3 separate regions of the Homo sapiens genome follow, and all the other regions are reported to be linked to region 2. Evidence: microRNA targets listed by miRTarBase, many of them from high-throughput screens and not tested one by one. Region 2 holds a microRNA gene; each other region holds the end of a gene's coding sequence.
Evidence for each region. The annotated mature microRNA hsa-miR-4433b-5p reads AUGUCCCACCCCCACUCCUGU and lies in region 2 at 5,041-5,061, shown strand. An mRNA with a match to its seed (bases 2 to 7 or 8) in the 3' UTR can be bound and repressed. Matches are read on the target gene's strand: a 7mer-m8 pairs with bases 2 to 8, a 7mer-A1 pairs with bases 2 to 7 and ends in A, and an 8mer does both.

Region 1 (7,313 bases), not on the chromosome of region 2:
ACCCTCACCCCCATCCCCAACCACTTGCCCAGGTGCATCATATTCCCCAGCCCCATCTGACCCCCATTTCTTTGTCCCACCTCACTCACTCAATCATCCCTGGCCACCCTGCCACCTTTCTCGCTAGCCATCCCATCCACATCATTCCCGCCTCAGCCATCCATCCTGGGCCCTTCACCTTTCACCCTGTCCCACATGCTGCCCTCTACCCCACCCTACTTGCTCCACGGCCTGCTGCAGCAGCTGCCACTGCACTTCACCTTCACCCACTACTTCACCCCATCTTCTCAGGTCAGGACCTGCAACATCCCCCCAGCCATGGCACGTGAGTTGGGGGATGGGATCCTAGGTAGGGCCAGGGGAGGAGACCCATAAATGTTCCCTTGGGGGTGTTGAGCCATTAATACCAGCAAGTAGAAGCTGGGATGGGCAGTGTCTGACAGCCAAAGAATTGAGTTTTGGCTTGCAGGGGTGGGTTTAGATTTGAAGTTTGCTTTCAGTTTACTATCAGGGATTTCTTTTTCCTGTCCTCCTCTCAATTTGTCCCTCCCTCTTCTGTGTTTCTAAGCTAGGGAACACCAGTAAGTGCTACCCACCCCTCTGCAGCAACATCTCCAAACTGTCAAGTTTAGATAATCCCCTCCTCCCTCTGCTTTTTTCCTCTGCTCTTCCCTTCTGTAAATTTTAAAACATTTTCCTCCCCTCTGGCCAGTGGGTTGTCACCAGAGCACTTGCTGTGGGCCCATCTGGTCTTGCCTTCTCAGCGCCACAGGGAAGGCCAAGCTGTTCTAGTGGTGGAAGTGCCACCATTTTGGGGTAGTATCTTTGACCATCTTTGGTGACGTTACGTTATCCCAGGTGAGGTGGAAAGCGTCTCACCTGGAACCTGATATAACTCAGGCTGCAATTCCATCCAGTTCCCACATCAACGGAGCCACACATTTGGCACTGTTATCTTGGTATCCCTCATCCCAGAAGAGGCATCTCCATATCCCAGAAAAGAAGATCCTATCATGAATAAAAGCTGTATGGCCCAGAGAGGAGCTCATGTGTCTAAAGTGAAGGGTATATTTTCTTCTGTTGTGTTGATGTTTCCTTCTTAATTTATAGGATTTTTTTAATGTAAAAAATTGCACTGAACTCTATAAACGTAAATGCTGCTTTTTGTAGCTCATATAAAAAAGGTTCCATATTTGTAGTATACTGCAATAATATTTTTTACATCCAGCTCTTTAAGTGATCCTCGTTCTGGTGGCTTTGTGTAAATATGTTTGCCCTAGTTGAATTAAGAAACTCTAAAGGTTATAAAATGAAAACAAAAAATAAAATATTTGTTTTCTGCTAGATGCAAAACTGACTAAGCATGTATATTTTACCAAACTTATGTATTTTTTGAAGTTATGAACTATAAAATGTTAAAACATTTTTTGCTGGGACAAAATGTTAAGTAATTTGCAGTATGTAGTGCCCCCAGTATTGGGATTTTTGAGCTAATGGGCAGCAGTCAGCTGGGGGCTTCTGAGGGATGCTCATCTTTAACAGTCTCCCTCATGTACTTTTGCTGTTTTACACAGAGAAACAGGTAGACCCCACAGAGGAGAAGGAGGGGATTCAACAGCTTTATTGTCTGGAAGCAGTGAGATTTGGTGATTGTCTGGGGGGATTCCTGGGTTTCCCTGGGTACCTTGTTCCAGGCAGTCAGTCCATTTGCCTTCCTAGTACTTAGCCCCCTCTGACAATTTTTTTTTTAATGTGCCTTTTGGGTTGGTAGAAACGGAAGTAGAAGTAGGCTGGAGGATGAGTTGGGACAGTCTTCCTTTTGTTGGGAGGTGAGCACATTTACAGATATTTTGCTTCATAGTTTCCATGCCCTCTGCCCAGCTCAGTTTAGACAGTAAACGTTCCTTGTTTCTTTTCTCCCATGACACTGACAAGAGGAATTACCACCTCAGCCTCTTTTGCCCCTCTTCTTGCCTTTCACCCAGGCTCTCAGCCCTAATTAACACACTGACCCAAAGGTGCTTGTGTTGCAGGTCCCATCTCCTTTGATGAGGTTAACAATTCCCACTTTGGCATTTTCCTAACTATTCGTGTGGCTAGAATTGGTTGGTTGGTCACTTGACAAGAAAAACCATACTTACCTGGGCCAAGGCTCTGTTCCTGCCTTCGCAAATTCTCAAAAGAGTAAAGTTTATGAAAAGAAAGTGGCAGGCAAACACAACTCTTGACTGCCCTCCCACCCTCCTACCTGTTCAGTACTCATCTGATTCAGAAGCATCACTTCTTGGATAACTAGCACTGGAAAAATGAAATCATCTGTGTAAGTGAAGGGACTCATTTTTCTTTGCTTTCAGCCCATGTAAATAAATAATACAGTATTAACATTTTCGTGCTGCTTCCCATTAGCTTGTAGATTGAGCCATACTCTGGCTGCCTCTTTGCCTTCCTAGGGGCATTTTCTTTAACTTCCAGAATAGTGATTTTAAAAGTAAAAATAAAAATAAACCTTACTTACAAGCATAACAGATTGTATTTAACTTTATCACATATGATAGAGATATATATGCTGTAAAATGAGGGAAAGGAACTTTCTAATAAACCAATGATTTGTGGAAACTTAGCAGAGTCTGTCGTAATTGTTGCCCCATCCACTCAAAGTTAGGTAGGGTTGGAGGTGTGGGTTATAAATAACATCTTGTTTGACATGACCAAGGAATAGATTCCTGTGAACCAGTTAGAGATGTTTGCAGTTGTGCTTCTGAAAGCTCAGGCTACGCAAAGAGAGAGGAAAGATGATGGTGTGGGAGGTGGTAATAGTAGTTAATTTCTCTCAGTTGTAGGTAGATGTATTGGGATGTACACCTCCTTTCCACTTCCTCTTTCCCACAAGAGGAAAGATTTCCTTCCATTTTAGATATATAATCTGTGTGTAGTAGAATATATGGTGTATATATAGGTGCTTACTAAATGGGTGTGGAATTTCTGGCTTTGAATTTTAGGATTTTGGACTACTTTAAGGGCACTGAGATGACAAGAATCATCTGCCGGACTTTTGTCCTCCAGGTGGAGTTCTGTATGCCAGTCTTCAGTTACTCTCCTCAGCCCTTTAATACCACTACAGTGTTTGAGCACCTCTACTTGGTATAAGGAAATATGGCCTAATTGTTACAGAGAAGATATAACCCCTACTCTTCCATATCAAAAAATCACAAAAGAGGCAGGGAAAATTTAGCATGGAAAGCTACCATAGAGTTGTAGTGATAAATTAGCTTTCCCTCTCAACCTCAGCCTTTCAAGAAGGAAAGGCTTTCTTTCCTACTGTCTTTTGATACATTTCTTTCCTACTCTGTTTGATACATCTGTGTTCTCCCTTTGATTAAAGAGGAGCTGTTCAACTTGAACCTGGGGTTGAGTACTCAGATCTGCCTATATTCCTAAAATAGCAAAGATCCTTACCCAGAAAGAAATGACATTAGACCTACAAAAATTAGCCGGGCGTAGTGGCACACGCCTGTAATCCCAGTTACTCGAGAGGCTGAGGCAGGAGAATCGCTTGAACCGGGAGGTTGCCGTGAGCCAAGATCACACCACTGCACTCTAGCCTGGGCAACAGCGTGAGACCCTGTCTGTCTCACACACACACACACACACACACGTTAGAAAATGAAAAGTGAGGCCAGGTGTGGTGGCTCATGTCTAATCCCAGCACTTTGGAAGGCCAAGGCAGGTGGATCACTTGAGGTCAGGAGTTTGAGATCAGCCTGGCCAACATGGTGAAACCCCATCTCTACTAAAAATTTAAAAAAAAAAAAAAAATTGGCCAGGCATGGTGGTGCATGCCTGTAATTGCAGCTACTCAAGAGGCTGAGGTAGGAGAATCGCTTGAACGTGGGAAGTGGAGGTTGCAGTGAGCCAAGATCATGCCACTGCACTCCAGCCTGAGTGATAGAGTGAGACTCCGTCTCAAAAAAAAAAAAAAAAAAAAAAAAATGGGCGGGGCACGGTGGCTCAAGCCTGTAATCCCAGCACTGAGGCCGAGGTAGGCGAATCACGAGGTCAGGAGAGATCGAGACCAGCCTGACTAACATGGTGAAGCCCCGTCTTTACTAAAAATACAAAAATTAGCCAGGCATGATGGCGTGCGCCTATAATCCCAGCTATTCAAGAGGCTGAGACAGGAGAATCACTTGAACCCGGGAGGCAGAGGTTCCAGTGAGCCAAGATCATGCCACTGCATTCCAGCCTGGGTGACAGAGTGAGACGCCATCTCAAAAACAAAAAAAAAGTGATTTTCTGAGAGCAGGGGAGGTGACAAGTCAAAGAGGCAGACTGGACTGTATAGAGTGTTATGTGAAGATACGTGCAGTTAATTGCCTTGTTCTGATAAGGCCTCAGCCACCTTGGCCTGAAACATGAAAGTACTCCCTCTTCAAACCCTTGATGACTAATTCAGGCCTCGTCAGCCATTTCCATTCTTATTTGCCAAAGACAGCTTCACTCACTTCTACCAACTCATATCTCAATTTTTGCAGCATTTTCCTGGGTGGCCTTCCTGACTAGAACCTAATTTCCTGTTCTGTGTAAGCTTACTGGCTTTTCAGAATCTGAATGCAGCTCATTTTGTATTCATTGCTTCCCAGTAAAATTGTAATCTCTGAGAGAACAGGGAGTGATTCTTATATCCCCCCACCGCAGCCCCCAACGTATCTCACACTGAATACATAGTAAACATTTTGATTATATGTTCAAGAATATGAGCAAAGTGGCCAGGCACAGTGTCTCATGCCTATAATCCCAGTACTTTGGGAGGCCAAGGCAGGAGGATCTCTTGAGCTCAGAAATTCGAGGCCAACCTGGGTAACATAGCAAGACCCCATCTCTACAAAACAATTTAAAAATTAGCTGGGCATGGTGGCACAAGCCTGTGGTCCCAGCTATTCATGAAGCTGATGTGGGAGGACTGCTTGAGCCCAGGGGTCAAGTCTGTAGTGAGCCATGTTCAGGTCACTGTACTACAGCCTGGGTGACAGAGCAAGATCCTGTCTCAAAAATAAAAAGAATATGAGCCAAGTAAAATATCATTAACTGAGGATTGTGCATCAGAATTGAGCCAAAAAAAATTCAAAAATGTGTTTTTTGGTTTTTGGTTTTTTGGGTTTTTTGAGATGGAATTTTGCTCTTGTTGCCCAGGCTGGAGTGTGATGGCACGATCTCGGCTGACCGCAACCTCCGTCTCCCAGGTTCAAGCAATTCTTCCTCAGCCTCCCAAGCAGCTGAGATTATAGGTGTGCACCACCACACCCGGCTAATTTTTGTATTTTTAGTAGAGACAGGGTTTTGCCATGTTGGCCAGGCTGATCTCAAACTCCTGGCCTCAAGCGATCCGCCCACCTTGGCCTCCCAAAGTGTTGGGAGATTACAGGTGTGAGCCACCATGCCCAGCAAAAAAAAAAAAAAAAAAAAAAAAAATTGTTTTTTAGGCATAGTCTTACTCTTGCCCAGGCTGGAGTGGAGTGGCAAAATCGTAGTGCACTGTAACCTAAAACTCGTGGGCTCAAGTGATTCTCCTGCCTCGGCCTCCTCAGTAGCTGGAACTACAGGTGTGCACTACCGTGCCTGGCTAATTTTAATTTTTTTGTAGAGACAGGGTCTCACTATGTTGCCCAGGCTGGTCCCAAACACCTGGCTTCAAGCAATCCTCATCTTGGCCTCCCAAAGTGCTAGGGTTACAGGCATGAGCCACCAAACCTGGTGTAAAAAATCTTTATAATTTTATTTTTCTTTTCTTTCTTTCTTTTTTTCTTTTTTGATGGAGTCTCACTCTGTCGCCCAGGCTGGAGTGCAGTGGCATGATCTTAGCTCACTGCCACCTCCGCCTCACAGGTTCAAGCAATTCTTTTGCCTCAGCCTCCCAAGTAGCTGGGATTACAGACACACACCACCACGCCCAGCTAATTTTTGTATTTTTAGTAGAGACGGGGTTTCACTAGGTTGGCCAGGCTGGTCTCAAACTCCTGACCTTGTGGTCCACTCGCCTGGGCCTCCCAAAGTGCTGGGATTACAGGCATGAGCCACCATGCCCGGCTAAAATCTTTATGATTTTCCATCCCCCATGGATTAAAGTTCAGATTCCTTAATATGGCATTCAAGGACCTCCAGTAATTTGAATCCCCAAGCTTTACCCCCTTGCGCCTCAGTCCAACCCTTTAAGCATTCTGCTATGCTGAGTCAACTACTTGTCCTTCCCTACCTCTGTGTTCCTTTGCTGCTCTCATGTATTCTCTATGCCTAAAAACCCTTTCATTCTCTGACAAAAGGCAACTTGAACATGAGTTCAAGTGCAACCCATGTTTGAATCTTAGTTTTGCCATCTGTTGGCTGCGTAAACATGGGCAATTTACCTAAAACTCTTGTGCCACAGTTTTGTGTTTATAAAATGGGCATAATAGTACTTATTTCCTAGGGTTGTTATGAGTAACAATGATATACGACTTTGATAATCTGTGTATTTTTCAAGGCATGCTTGACTGTCTCTCTGCTGCAGTTATGTGTGTTCATGTCTTAACTCTTTCTGGGCTGTTTGTTAAGTCTCCTTGATGGCTATCTTTGGAGTTTTTAAAATATTTTATTTTTTATAATTTTAAAATAGAGACGAGGTCTCACTGTATTGCCTAGGCTGGTCTTAAATGCCTGAGCTCAAGCCATCCTCCTGCCTCAGCCTCCCAAAGTGCTGGGATTACAGGCATGAGCCACTATACCTGGCCTAATGGTTATCTTTGTATCCTTTATCAACACAGTGCCTTGAACAGAGTAAATACTTATTGAAAACTTGAGTGAAATGTAAGTTCATATTTGGCCTCACAGAATACACCAGTAATACAGCAATCACTCACCTGAGGACAGTGGGAGGATAGAAGGTAAGTAGAGGACTGGGTTAAGTATTCGTTCAAGCAAATACATTAATTACACGCCTCCCATGTACTTGACACTGGGAACTCAGCAATGAAGAAGGCCCAGACCAAAGTTCAGGCTTTTAGCTTCCTGTCCTATAAAGGATAAGATTCTTAACTCTAGGCTGAGGTAGTAAATTACGAGGGGACTTCAAAATGGTACAGGGTGGTTGAGCAGGATACGGCAATGGTTAAGTTTGATCAGAAAATAGAAATCAAAAGGAAAATGTGGCTATGGTTACCCCTAGCGGACCTCTTAAATCTTCCTGAGAACCTGCTTTTTTGGGAAGGCATGAGTGCCAGTAAGACTTGGCACTCCTCCTCTTCCGCTTACCGAGAGAAAATGACTTTGCCTTTCTGCTC
Region 2 (8,046 bases):
CCTCAATTGTGCTAATTTGAACATGGCTCCAATATCGCTTTGAGAATGTTTCTATATTCGTGTACCATCAAGCTTGTAGATGTCACTGAGACAAGGGTTGTCTTATATCATTAAGTATGTACAGATTCACGTTATATGTTCAGTCCTACACTGTGTCTGTGACAGACACATATGCAGTCTGCCCAATAGAAACTCATCATCCTGTTAAGAAGAAACTTCGTTCACATCTGAAATTACTAGTGAGTTAGGTAATGTACAATATACACTGTATCAATCAGGATTCCAGTCAGGCAAACAGGAATCATGGCAGATGTTTTAAATAGAGTGTTTCATACAGGAAATTAGTTACAAAAGTGTTAAAAGGGCTGAAAGAACAAAAATGTAAGGTAACCAGAGAATAATAATGACAGGAAAATGGTCGTTGGGGAAGGTGGTGTTAGAGTCCAAGTGTACATGCTGTTGCTTTGTTTGAGGTGCTGTTACAACTGCTGACAGTGCAGGAACCACTGAAGAGGGACCACCCAGGCTAGAGCTGTGACCACTGAGCAGAGGCTGCTTTGGCTGAAGCTGGGGTCATCAAGGGGTTTCAGAAATTTTCAGAGGTGCCCCAAAGCAGGGATGGGGAGAGAGAACAGTGGCTTCTCTTCCTTTTCCATTTCTCTGCCAGAGCCTCTTACTGGAAGCCAGCTGGCAAGGGAACCTGGGAAATGTAGTTTTCAACCTTACAGCCCAGAGTCAGAGGCATGAGTGTGGGGCTGACAGACAACAGGCTAATAAACAACCCAGATTTTAAATGTTGTGATACAGGTGATTGAACAAGACAATGTATAATAAGGGAGTGAGCTTAAAATACAGTTGGTATAAACAAAGTTTTAGAAGAGAGACTACAAGGTACACTGGAGACAGCAAGAAGCTTCCACAACTCTATCAGTGGGAATGTTCTGGATATGAGTGAAGAAACCAACCTCAAACATGCTACGGCTGCAAAAGAGGACTTTATTGGGTTGCATGATTGTGGAATACAGGGTATTCACTGGCTTCAGGGATGGTGGGATCCAGGTCTTGAATGATGTTGCTAGGTTCTGTCTCCTCAGTTTATTGGCTTTGCATGTCTCGACTTTATGCTTCAGACAGACGAGATGGTTATCCACAGACTCCCATCTTCCTAGCAGGTTGACCTCACTAGGAAAAGTCGTTTCATTACATCTGGCAGGTCCCATCCCTGACCCAATCTCAGCTGCCAAGAGGAATGCCACTGTGCCTTACTCCACCAAATGGAATAGAGCAGGAAAAATCCCTCAGCAGGAACAGTGGGCAGCTGTTAACATGCAAAGGAAGATGGGCAAATGAGTGAGCAAGAAAAAGGTATGGCCACCGTAGTCCTCCATATGCACCACAACAGGACATAGGCTGTGCCCTCTAGAAACTGCTATTTTGTCTGAAACCTGAAGAAGATTTAGGGTCATTCTTTTTATTCTGTTTTAAATGGGGTCTCCCTCTGTCACCCAGGCTGGAGTGCAATGGCATGATCTTGGCTTACTGCAACCTTTGCCTCCCGAGTTCAAGCAAATCTCCTGCCTCAGCCTCCTGAGTAGCTAGGACTACAGGTGCCTACCACCACACCTGGCTAATTTTTTTATTTTTTATTTTTTTAAGTAGAGGTGGGGGTTTCACCATGTTGGCCAGGCTGGTCTCAAACTCCTGACCTCAAATGATCCACCCACCTTGGCCTCCCAAAGTGCTGGGATTACAGGCATGAGCCACCATGCCCAGCTGGATCATTTTTAAACCACAAATAAGCCAGTGTAAATTGATTTCCTCTGCGCTGTAATGCTCATGAAATATGAAGAGTCTTGGTCCAGGGCATCTCCCCATAGTACCTGGGGTGTTCTGAGCACACAGGGCACTCTCCACACATAAGGTGGTGCCAACAGCTGCCGGACACAGGAGAGGCAGCCCAGGCTACTGCAGTCACATGGTAATGTCACGTGCCATAAACACATAAGAAAGCCAGGGGATGCTCCCAGGAAGTTGCAGGGTATCAGCCAGAGTCCCAGAAGGAAGATGGCATTCCCAAAGGGTTTAGCTGAAGGGATTTTAATGAGGGGATGATTTATAGAGAGGTGGGCAGATTTCACAGAACCACAAAAGATGGTGAGATACCCAGGAACCTCACCATCCTGGGACTGTGTATTCATAGGTTTGTCACCAAATTTTTGCTAAAACTCAAGGTGCATATTATTGGGGTGCTATTTGGCATAGAAAACATTTGTCCAGGAAATTTTCTAATATCATGTCAAGTTAAACATAATTCATTGCAAATAAGAGGTACAAGGCATAGTATAATAGCAAGCTAGCACAAACAAAATTTGTAGACTTGCTAAAACATGGGAGAACAGCGTAGGCCAGAATAACAGTGATTAAGAGTTCAGGCTCTGGTGCTGGAGTCCCTGGGTTCAAATCCTTACTAGCTATGGGATCATAAGTGAATTTACTCATGTGTAAAATAGAGGTAATATTACTTATCCCATAAATTGTTATGAGGATTAAAGGATTAAATGCAATATTTGTAAGATGCTTAGAACTTTACTGGCACATAAATACTAGCATTATCTACAAAATTATACTACCCTTCCTCCGTTCACTCAATAAATATATAGTCAGGAGCCACATAACAATGTTTCAGTGAATGAGGGACCACATATACAATGGTGATTTCTTAAGATTATAGTATCATATTTTTATGTATCTTTTCTATGTTTAGATGTGCTTAGATACACAAATACTACTATGTTACAATTGCCCACATTATTCAGTACAGTAACGTACTATAGGTGTTTGTAGCCTAGGAACCATAGGCTAGACCAGATAGTCTAGGTGTGTAGCAGGCTACACCATTTAGGTTTGTGTAAGTATACTCTGATGCTCTCATTACGAAACTGCCTAACAATGCATTCTTTAGTAGGTATCCCCGTTGTTAAGTCACACATGACTGTGTATTAAATATTTACTATAGGCATCATCCTAGGCTCTGGGGAAAGTGGTAAGAAAAAAAAGACTACCTTTCCTGATGGACTGGGAAGAAAACATTAACTAATAATCACACACAGAAATAAAATCAAAACCATGAGTGGTGGTGCTTGGAGCCATAAGAGCTGGTAATGACTATACAGGGGTAGGCCTTCTTGAGGAAGTGACATTTACCTATGACCTAGATGAGTTTACTAGGGAAAGTTCATTAGGTAAAGATGAGAGGGGGAAAAATACCAGGCAGAGGAAGCACTATGTCCTCTGTGGCAGAAAGGATCATGGCAGGCATATTAGTCAGGACCCAGCCAGGAAAGCAAAACCCACTCTAGGTGATTTGATAGAGGGAATTTCATACGGGGAGTCAGAGGAGTTGAAAGAGCTCCCAGGGGAACCCTGAGAGTAGCAACTCCAGGAAGCTGGGACTACTGTATTTGTTTGCTAGGGCTGCAGTAACAAAGTGCCACAGACTGGGTGGCTTCACACAGAAAGTTATTGTCTCAGAGTTCTGAAGGCTGGAAGTCCAAAATCAAGGTGTCAGAAGGGGTAGTTCCTTTTGAGGCCTATGAGGGAAGGATCTGTTCCACGCCTCTTTCCTTGACTTGTAGATGACCATTTTCACCTATGTCTCTTCACATCGTCTTCCCTCTGTGTGTGTCTATCTCTGTCCAAACTTCCCCTTTTTATAAGGACAACATTCATATTGGATTAGGGTCCACCCTAATGACCTCACTTTAATTCGGCTACTCTATAAAGACCACAACCCTAAATAAGGTCACACTCTAAAGTACTGGGGGTTAGAACTTCAACACATGAACTTGCAGGGGAGACACAATTCAACCCATAGCACCACCCTGGAAGCTGGAGAACAAGGAAAGAAACAGTTTCTGGAGCCTAAGACAAGATAAGCTGGAACAAAGAGGGCCTGCCAAGATGGGTAGCAGGGATCACACAGAGATGGCTGTGTAGTGGGAACTGCAGCCACAGAAGAGACTCCTGAGAAAGAGAAGCAGGAGAAGTACTCTGGCTTCTCCTTCCTTCACCTCCAATATCTTTTGCCCTCCCTCACTCCCCATTGGCTGAACTTTACTGGAAGGCAGTTGGCTCTGGAGCCTGGAACAGCCCCCAGTGACACAGAGCAGATCGGGGGACCACGGGATGGGAAGGGTGGACATGGCTCTGACAGCAACAATGTAACACCCATGCAACGAGTCTGCGAGGCCGAATGGAAGCCAGCTGGCTGCAGGGGAGAGAGCAAGAGAGTCTGGCAGAAGGTGCACCTGGAGAAGGAAGTAGAGGCCAGGCCAGGTAGGAGTTTGGTCTGCATGCTAAGAGCCATAGAAATATCCAAAGGTTTTTAATAGAGCTGGGGGAGAGGCGGTGATGTGATCAGAGATGTGTTTTGAAAAGACCTATCTGGCTATGAAGTGGAGAGTGGGTTGAGGATAGTGGGGCAGATCAGTTAGAAGGCTACGCCTAAGAGAAAGCCTGTTTTACAAAAAGAGGGAGCTCCTGCTGCCCCTCTCTTTCCCTGGAGTTTTCATACCCTCCACGTGTACTAGACATGTGTATCTGCCAGTCAAAGCCACCCCTCCCCTGGTGCAGAGGCCCGCTCCAAGCTCTCATTGCCCAGTGTCCTTTTTCTAGATCCTCTCCTGGTTCACTTCCTTTCTCTCTGGGCAGTCCTTCCCATGCTGCAACACTGATTCTTCTTTTGTCACCCACCTGCTGCAAGGGGGGCCCTTGTCACCCATCTCACCCATCACTCTGGCTTAATGGTGCTGACTGAGTCCACGGCTTTGGTGGCCACCCATATGTTGCTGCTGCTTCTCAGATCTGTATTTCCAGACATGATTTCTCTCGTGAGAAAAATCAGCCTGCCAGATATCTCCACTGGAATGTCCAAAGGAATTGGAATCATGAGCTCAGCATGTCTAAAACTGAACACATTATCTTCCCCTCGCACGTGGACCCCTGTAACCTGCCCTTCATCCTGTGTTCCCTATCCTCCTTATGTCCCACCCCCACTCCTGTTTGAATATTTCACCAGAAACAGGAGTGGGGGGTGGGACGTAAGGAGGATGGGGGAAAGAACATCATCCTAAACTATTCCCTCTTACTCCCCCACATCCCATTGCTGTCCAAGTCCTGTTGGCTCTGTCCTAGATATCTGTCAAAATCCACTTTTCCTGCTACTTCCCTAGCCCAGGTCCTCATTTTTATGTGGGTTCATGCAGTGGTCTCCTAGCTGGCTTCCTGCCTCAAGCCTTGCCCTGGCCGGTCCACTTTTCCTACAATCAAAGTGACATCTACCAGTGTAAATAGATCATGTCCTTTCTCTGCTTAAAATCCCTTCAGTGATTTCTTATCGTCCTCAAGTCAAGTCTGATTACTATCTCTGCACAGTGCCCAGCCCACAATAAATGATTGGTGATTAAATGAATAAATGACAAACCAATATAGAAAAATTGCTAAGTGTGGAAATGAAGAAAAGATGCCATTTTTTTTCCCCTGGAAGTCTTTCCGACTGTCCAAGACTCAATCTGGATCTATCCTTGGGTGTGTTTGTATTGTACTTCTCACACTATACTAAACCCATCTACTTACCTGTCTGTTTCCTACTGGAATGTTCCTTGGTTGCTACTATATCTCTTAGCACAGCTCCTGGAAGAAAGTAAATGCTCAAAAAATATTTGATGAATGAATGAATGATAAGGAGAGCTCTGGGCTGGGGCTGACTATGAAATGCTTATTAGGAGCAGAGTGTGTCTGTCCTGGTTCCAAAGCACTGGGGGAACCAGGATGGGTAGAGAGGCTGAAGGCAAGCCCTTTAGGGGAAGGATAGCAGTGACGAAGGCTGAAAGATCAACAGCAATACATTTTTCTCAGGAGACTTCTTTGGGGCAGTGTTTTCTAAGCTGGGTTCCAGGGACCACTGGTCTTGCGAGATGCTCTATCTAGGGTTCTATATCAAATCAGCATGTAGAAACATGCAGCCCATACCCCTTGTGTACATCAGCATCTCAAAGAGTCTGAGAAGTCCTGCAGTTGAAAAACCAACACTTTAACCCTTTTAACTCAGTATTTCCTGAACTTATTCCATAAGTTTGAATATACAAAAATAAAGTTTTTTGCTTAATACTCAGCAACACCCCCTTCCACAAGATATACTGGAATAAATAGTGTTTGGTGGTCATGAGTATTTTAGGAAAAGGGCAGGAGAAGCTTGAATTTCCCCCAGTGTGCCTTGGGTGAGCACTGTGGTTATAGCCACTTGATGAGAACAGTCAGAGGAAGGCTGCTCTGGGCCATCAAGTGCAGACTGTATAGGACAGGAGAAGGGTGGGAACAGAGACACCCCTGAAGGGGTTGTAGATTCAGGGGGAAAGGTGATGGATGGCCTGGACAAAGATTGTGGTGGAAACAAAATCAATGGGCACACGATTTTCCCTTCTTGGAAGAACCTCTGAAAGGAGAAGCCCTATTCACCCCGACTGCCTGGCTTAGGCCACACCCCTAGAAATGCAGCTACAACCAGGGCAAACCATCAACAGCATCTTCTCAGCACCCATGCGATCCCAAGTAGGCATCCGAGGACATGCAAAAGAGAAGCATGTGTCCTTTTGTGGTCAAAGTCTGTTTTCTCTCTTGGAGCAGGTATGCTTCTGATGGTGCTGCAAGCAGCAGGGGGTAAGGCTGCAAGCTGGGCTAAAAACAGCCCCACCCCCTCTAGCCACAATCAGCTGTGGGATAAAAGCCCCTAAAGACCAAGACTGTACTCATGTCTGACTCATCTCTGCTTCCAGCTCTCAGCTAAACCTGCCCAGAGGAGAGCATGGCAGACAGGAGGGCGCTTGCTCAGAAGCCTCTAGGTTAGAGGTAAACAGGACTAAGGTTAATAAAGAAATTCATAATGAGGGTATAGCAACTGTACCCCCACCCCATCACCAGATGATGACCTGGTCTGAGAGAGGAAACATGCAGGTGGGTCACATAACTCAATGTAAAGCAGGTAGCGCACCATGCCTGCATTTAAGGGCTCAGCAGGTGTTACTTATTACTATTATTTACTCCTATGCAAGTAACTGAAAAAAAATTACTTCATTTAAGATCTTTAGCAAATACTTTTGGTGTTAACTCTTTCAGGGACACTTCTTTTTTAAAAATTTATTTTTTAATATAAATGGGACAGGGTCTAGCTATGTTGCCTAGGCTGGTCTCGAACTCCTAGGCTCAAGGGGTCCTCCACCCTCAGCCTCCCAAAGTGCTGGGATTACAGGCACGAGCCACTGCATCTGGCCTGAGGGACACTGCTAACGCAGTACCTGGTGCTTTTCTGGCCCCTAAGCCCATGGGCTTAGGAAAAAATTAAGTCAGTGCCAAAGAGGACCCCAAACCCCACCATTGTTTCACAGACAGTGTTCAGTATGGCCTGTACCTCAGGGTAATCACTTCATTTTGCTCTTTTCTCTCCAATGCTCTCAGTGTGGAGGGAACTGGGAGGACCTGTCTGACCACAAACAACCCACCTGAGGAGGCCCTGCTGCTCCCGGAGGGTGCTCCTGCCAGAGTTCTCCTAGTTCCTTGCAAGGAGCCCTGGAAAAACAATCCCACCCTGGGTCTAACATAGTCTCGGGGACTTTTAAACCAATGCCCAGCTAGAAAAAACATCTCAGGCAGTTCGCGGATAGAAGAGGAAATAATATTAAGAGCCTGCCATATGTTGAATGTTTACTATGTCTCAGCAGCATATAAATGCTTTAGTTTCTTACAGAAGCCCTCCAAGGTGGGTACTCTTATTATCCCCTTTTTACTAATGAAGAAACTGAGACTTAAGGAGGTTAAATACCTGGTAAGTAGATAGAGTAGGGATCTGACCTAAGCTGTCCAACTCCAGGGCTCATGCTCTTAACACTGTTTATCCTGCTTTCCCAGGAAACTACAGAGGCCCTTTGGTGCTCCCCAGCTCTCCTTGTTTTCCTGTTTCTAAGCATCTGAGTGCATCCTGATAGCTGTGGA
Region 3 (5,000 bases), not on the chromosome of region 2:
GAGGCAGGAGAATCGCTTGAACCCTGGAGGTGGAGGTTGCAGTGAGCCAAGATTGCGCCACTGCACTCCAGCCTGGGCAACAAGAGTGAAACTCTGTCTCGGAAAAAAAAAAAAGAAAGAAAAAAGAGCCAGGCGCGGTGGCTCACGCCTGTAATCCCAGCACTTTGGGAGGCCGAGGCGGGCGGATCACAAGGTCAGGAGATCGAGACCGTCCTGGCTAACACGGTGAAACCCCATCTCTACTAAAAAATACAAAAAAATAGCCGGGTGTGGTGGCAGGCGCCTGTAGTCCCAGCTGCTCGGGAGGTTGAGGCAGGAGAATGGCGTGATCCCGGGAGGCAGAGCTTGCAGTGAGCCGAGATCACGCCACTGCACTCCAGCCTGGGCGATAGAGCAAGACTCTGTCTCAAAAAAAAAAAAAAAAAAAGAAAGAAAGAAAAAGAAAAAAAGAAAAGGCAGAAAGGCAGAAGAGTCTTTTCCTCCCACAATAGTTGGGTTCCTTTTATGTTTGAGCCCCAGTGAACTGTATCCGTGGGGGTGTCAGCCCCGAGCCCGCTGCGCAGCCCCTGTCTCCTGGGTCCCCACCTCCTTTCTCCTTACCTTCAGCTCACCCCCTCCAACTCCTGCCACCTTTGGAGAGTGACCAAGCCTCTTCCCATCTGCAGTGCTTCCCGATGCTGGCAGGTGCTGTCCTGTCCACCCAGGCTCAAACAGGATGTCAGGCGAACAGATCTTTCCTCAAATGGCATTTCAGATTCACATTGCCCTCGTTTAAAAAAGTATTTTCCAGCCCGGGGCGGTGGCTCACGCCTGTAATCTCAGCACTTTGGGAGACCAAGGAGGGAGGATCACTTGAATCTAGGAGTTCAAGATCAGCCTGGGCAACACTGAGACCCCATCTCTATCAAAAATTTAAAAAATTAGCCAGGAAAGGCCATGCCCGGTGGCTCACGCCTGTAATCCCAGCAGTTTGGGAGGCTGAGGCAGGTGGATCACCTGAGGTCAGGAGTTTGAGACCAGCCTGACCAATATGGTGAAACCCTGTCTCTATTAAAAATACAAAAAATTATCCGGGCATGGTGGTGGGCACCTGTAATCCCAGCTACTCGGGAGGCTGAGGCACGAGAATCGCTTGAATCTAAGAGGCAGAGGTTGCAGTGAGCCGAGATCCTGCCATTGCACTCCAGCCAGAGCAACAAGAGTGAGACTCCGTCTAAAAAAAAAAAAAAAAATCAGTCGGGCGTGCACCTATACTTCCAGCTACTCGGGAGGCTGAGGTGGAAGGATCACTTGATCCTGGGAGGTCGAGGCTGCAGTGAGCCATGATTGGGCCACTGCACTCCAGCCTGGGAGAAAGAGTGAGATACAGTCTCAAAAAAAAAAAAGACTTTCTTTTTTTCTTTTTTTTTTTTTTGAGATGGAGTCTTGCTCTGTGGCCCAGGCTGGAGTGCAATGGCATGATCTCGGCTCACTGCAAACTCCAGCTCCTGGGTTCGAGTGATTCTCCTGCCTCAGCCTCCCAAGTAGCTGGGATTACAGGCCTGCACCACCACGCCCAGCTAATTTTTTGTATTTTTAATAGAGACGGGGTTTCACCATGTTGGCCAGGCTGGTCTTGAACTCCTGACCTCAGGTGATTCACCCACCTCAGCCTCTCAAAGTGCTGGGATTACAGGCATGAGCCACCGTGCCCTGCCAAAAAAAGGATATTTTGAGAGAAAGAGAGCAACCCCATAAGTTTGTTTTGTTTTGTTTTGTTTTGAGACAGAGTTTCACTCTTGTTGCCCAGGCTGGAGTGCAATGGTGTGATCTTAGCTCACTGCAACCTCCGCCTCCCAGGTTCAAGCGATTCTCCTGCCTCAGCCTCCCAAGTAGCTGGGATTACAGGCATGTGTCACCATGCCCGGCTAATTTTTTTTATCTTTAGTAGAGACGGGGTTTTGTCATGTTGGCCAGGCTGGTCTCCAACTCCTGACCTCAGGTGATCCACCTGTCTCAGCCTCCCAAAGTGCTGGGATTACAGGCATGAGCCACAGCACCTGGCTTCACATAACTTTGATCACAGTATATTGTTTTAATCGTTCTACTTTATTAGTTATTGTTAATCTCTTAGAAGGAATATTTATATACCCTTTGCCAATTTATAAATTAAACTTTATCGTAGGTATGTATATACAAGAAAAAACATAGTGTATATAGGGTTCAGTATTATCCATGGTTTCAGAGGGTCTTGGAGTGAATCCTACAGATAAGGGAGGCTACTGTGGCTCTTGGAGATATTCCACATGGTCAACATAGATCTCTTTGTAATGGCTGCAGGGTTTGATGCTGCTTGAATGCGTTTATTCCCTAATGAACACTAGGCTGTTTCTTGTTTTTTTTTTTTTTGCTATACTCAATAATGTCACGGTGGAAATTCTTTTTTACCCCCCCCCCCAACTTTTACTTTAAGTTCCAGGGTATATGTGTAGGATGTGCAGGTTTGTTACACAGGTAAATGTGTGTCATGATGGTTTGCTGCACACATACAGTGGAATTTTTTTTTTTTTCTTTGAGATGGAGTCTGGCTTTGTCACCCAGGCTGGAGTGCAGGGGCACAATCTCAGCTCACTGCAACCTCTGCCTCCCGGATTCAAGAGATTCTCCTAACTCAGCCTCCCACGTATCTAGGATTACAGGCGCCAGCCACCACGCCTGGCTAATTTTTGTATTTTTAGTAGAGACAGGGTTTTGCCATGTTGGCCAGGCTGGTCTTGAACTCCTGACCTCAGGTGATTCGCCCACCTCGGCCTCCTAAAGTGCTGGGATTACAGGCACTAGCCCCTGCGCCCAGCCCACAGTGGAAATTCTTGAATGCTATTCGGTGTGAGAGAAAGAGGCGGTGTGGTGGGGTGGGTGGTGGATGGATATAGCTGGCTTCTTGGGACATGCACACCACTCTCGGGTGCAGAGGAAGCTTGTCCTACATGTGGGTAGCATTGTCCTGTCAAGGTCAAGGTGTTGGCCCCAACGCTGAGACCCCGGGGCATTCAGGGACAGACCCAAATGTCAGGGAGATGGAGGACAGAGCAGACAGGAGACTGAAGCAGAAGGCAGAGGGTAGCTGGCTTGGGGAAGCCCTTACCCAGGGGTCCGCAAACTTTTCCTGAAAAGGGCCAGATAGGAAATGCTTCAGGCACTACGGGCCAGGAGGTCACTGTCACCACCACTCAGCTCCACCCTGCAGCTTGAAAGCTGCCCTAGACAATACGTAAATGAACGAGCAGGGCCGTGTTCCAATACAACTTTATTTATCAACATGGAAATTTACGTTTTATATAATTTTTACATGTTATGAAATAATATTCTTTTGTGCTTCTTTATGAACTATTTAAATATAATGCCATTCTGGCCGGGCGCAGTGGCTCACGCCTGGAATCCCAGCACTTTGGGAGGCCAAGGCGGGCGAATCACAAGGTTAGGAGTTTGAGACCAGCCTGGCCAATATGTTGAAACCCCGTCTCTACTAAAAATACAAAAATTAGCCAGGCATGATGGCAGGCGCCTGTAGTCCCAGCTGCTCAGGAGGCTGAGGCAGGAGAATTGCTTGAACCCGGGAGGTGGAGGTTGCAGTGAGCCAAGATCACGCCACTGCACTCCAGCCTGGGTGACAGAGTAAGACTCCATCTCAAAAAAAAAAAAAAAAAAAAAAAAAAAAGAAGTAATGGCATTACTTTTGAGCGTCATCTTTGTCATGCTCTGTCAGCAGGTAGATGGGCCAGACGAGTCTAAGAGGCAGCTCCGGGCATCTCTGAGCATTGACTTGCGGACGTTCCCCAGCCCTGGAGCTCCATCCAGGCTGGGAAGAGGGAGGACGTGGAGATTTTCATGAGTGTCCCAGCAGTGAGAATGGACTCTTGCCGGGCAGACAGACACAGCAAGGCTCTCCTGGGTGCTGGGGGAAACTGAAGCTGTCAGTGTCAGCTCCGAAAGCTCTTTGGAGAGGCTTCCCAAGGTGGGATGCACGTGGACCAGGCTCCAAGTATCGTCAGAACTACTGGAAGATTGTTTTCAAGATAATCTGGAACAGGAAGAGAAGACACAAAAGCCCCAGAATCAGAGCAGCTCTTTGCAGGAATTTGATTAAGGAAATGAGACAGGGCTGGATGCAGTGGCTCACGTCTGCAACCCCAACCCTTCGGGAGGCTGAGGTGGGAAGATCACTTGAACTCAGGAGTTGAAGACAGTCTGGTTAGAGGTATAATATGCTGAGATGAAGGAAGAAGAAGAAGAAGGGGGGGTAGGGGGAGGAGGAGAAGAAAGAAGATGAAGGAGGAAGGAGGAAGAAGAAGAAGGAAGACGACGACGACCAGCCTGGGGAACATAGAGAGACCCCATCTCTACAAAACATTGAATAATTAGCAGGGCACAGTGGCACGCCTTTGTAGTCCCAGCTACTCGAGAGGCTGGGGCAGGATAACCACTTGAGCCCAGGAGGCAGCAGAGAGCTAAGATTTTGCCACTATACTCCAGCCTGGGTGCAAGAGAGGAGACCCTGTCTCTAAAGAAAAAAAAAAAGAAAGAAACAAGATGGTCTTTCTTAGGTTCTTTCTTTCCTAGGTTCTCAGGTCTTTTTTTTTTTTTTTTTTTTTTGAGACAGAGTCTTACTCTGTCGCTCAGGCCGGAGTGCAGTGGTGCAATCTTGGCTCACTGCAATCTCTGCCTCCTGGGTTAAAGCAATTCTCATGCCTCAGCCTCCTGAGTAGCTGGGATTACAGGCACGTACCATCACATCTGGCTAATTTGTTTTGTATTTTTAGTAGACACGGAGTTTCTCCATGTTGGCCAGGCTGGTCTTGAACTCCTGGTTTGCACATCTAAGGGGCTGCGACAGGACCTGTGCTGTCTACCATGAAAGGGCTGCCAGGGATGAGGCCCCACCTGGGTGAGCACGTTGTCCTTCTGGGTCAGATTCTCAACAATTTCAAAGTGGTCCACATCGTGGAGCTCTTCAAATGAGG

Region 1: miRTarBase lists GPATCH8 as a target of hsa-miR-4433b-5p. Seed matches in the 3' UTR shown: 8mer at 1,432-1,439 and 7mer-m8 at 1,804-1,810.
Region 3: miRTarBase lists AFMID as a target of hsa-miR-4433b-5p. Seed matches in the 3' UTR shown: 7mer-m8 at 3,873-3,879.

The regions. Positions count from the first base shown.
Region 1 is chr17:44,390,584-44,397,896 of GRCh38, reverse strand. It overlaps GPATCH8 (G-patch domain containing 8), which reads left to right. Exons shown (of 8, transcript NM_001002909.4): 8 at 1-2,616. The coding sequence ends at 329. Among named protein-coding and RNA genes, the nearest start is that of ITGA2B, 4.6 kb to the right of the region's middle. RefSeq lists an enhancer at 1-417.
Region 2 is chr2:64,337,824-64,345,869 of GRCh38, reverse strand. MIR4433B (microRNA 4433b) reads left to right here and starts at 5,022; the gene lies at 5,022-5,123. MIR4433A (microRNA 4433a) reads right to left here and starts at 5,111; the gene lies at 5,031-5,111. It overlaps LOC105374768 (a long non-coding RNA gene), which reads left to right and starts at 4,161. Exons shown (of 3, transcript NR_189739.1): 1 at 4,161-4,335; 2 at 7,513-7,813; 3 at 7,963-8,046.
Region 3 is chr17:78,205,971-78,210,970 of GRCh38, reverse strand. AFMID (arylformamidase) reads right to left here. Exons shown (of 11, transcript NM_001010982.5): 10 at 4,921-5,000; 11 at 3,269-4,060. The coding sequence ends at 4,034. Among named protein-coding and RNA genes, the nearest start is that of BIRC5, 5.8 kb to the left of the region's middle.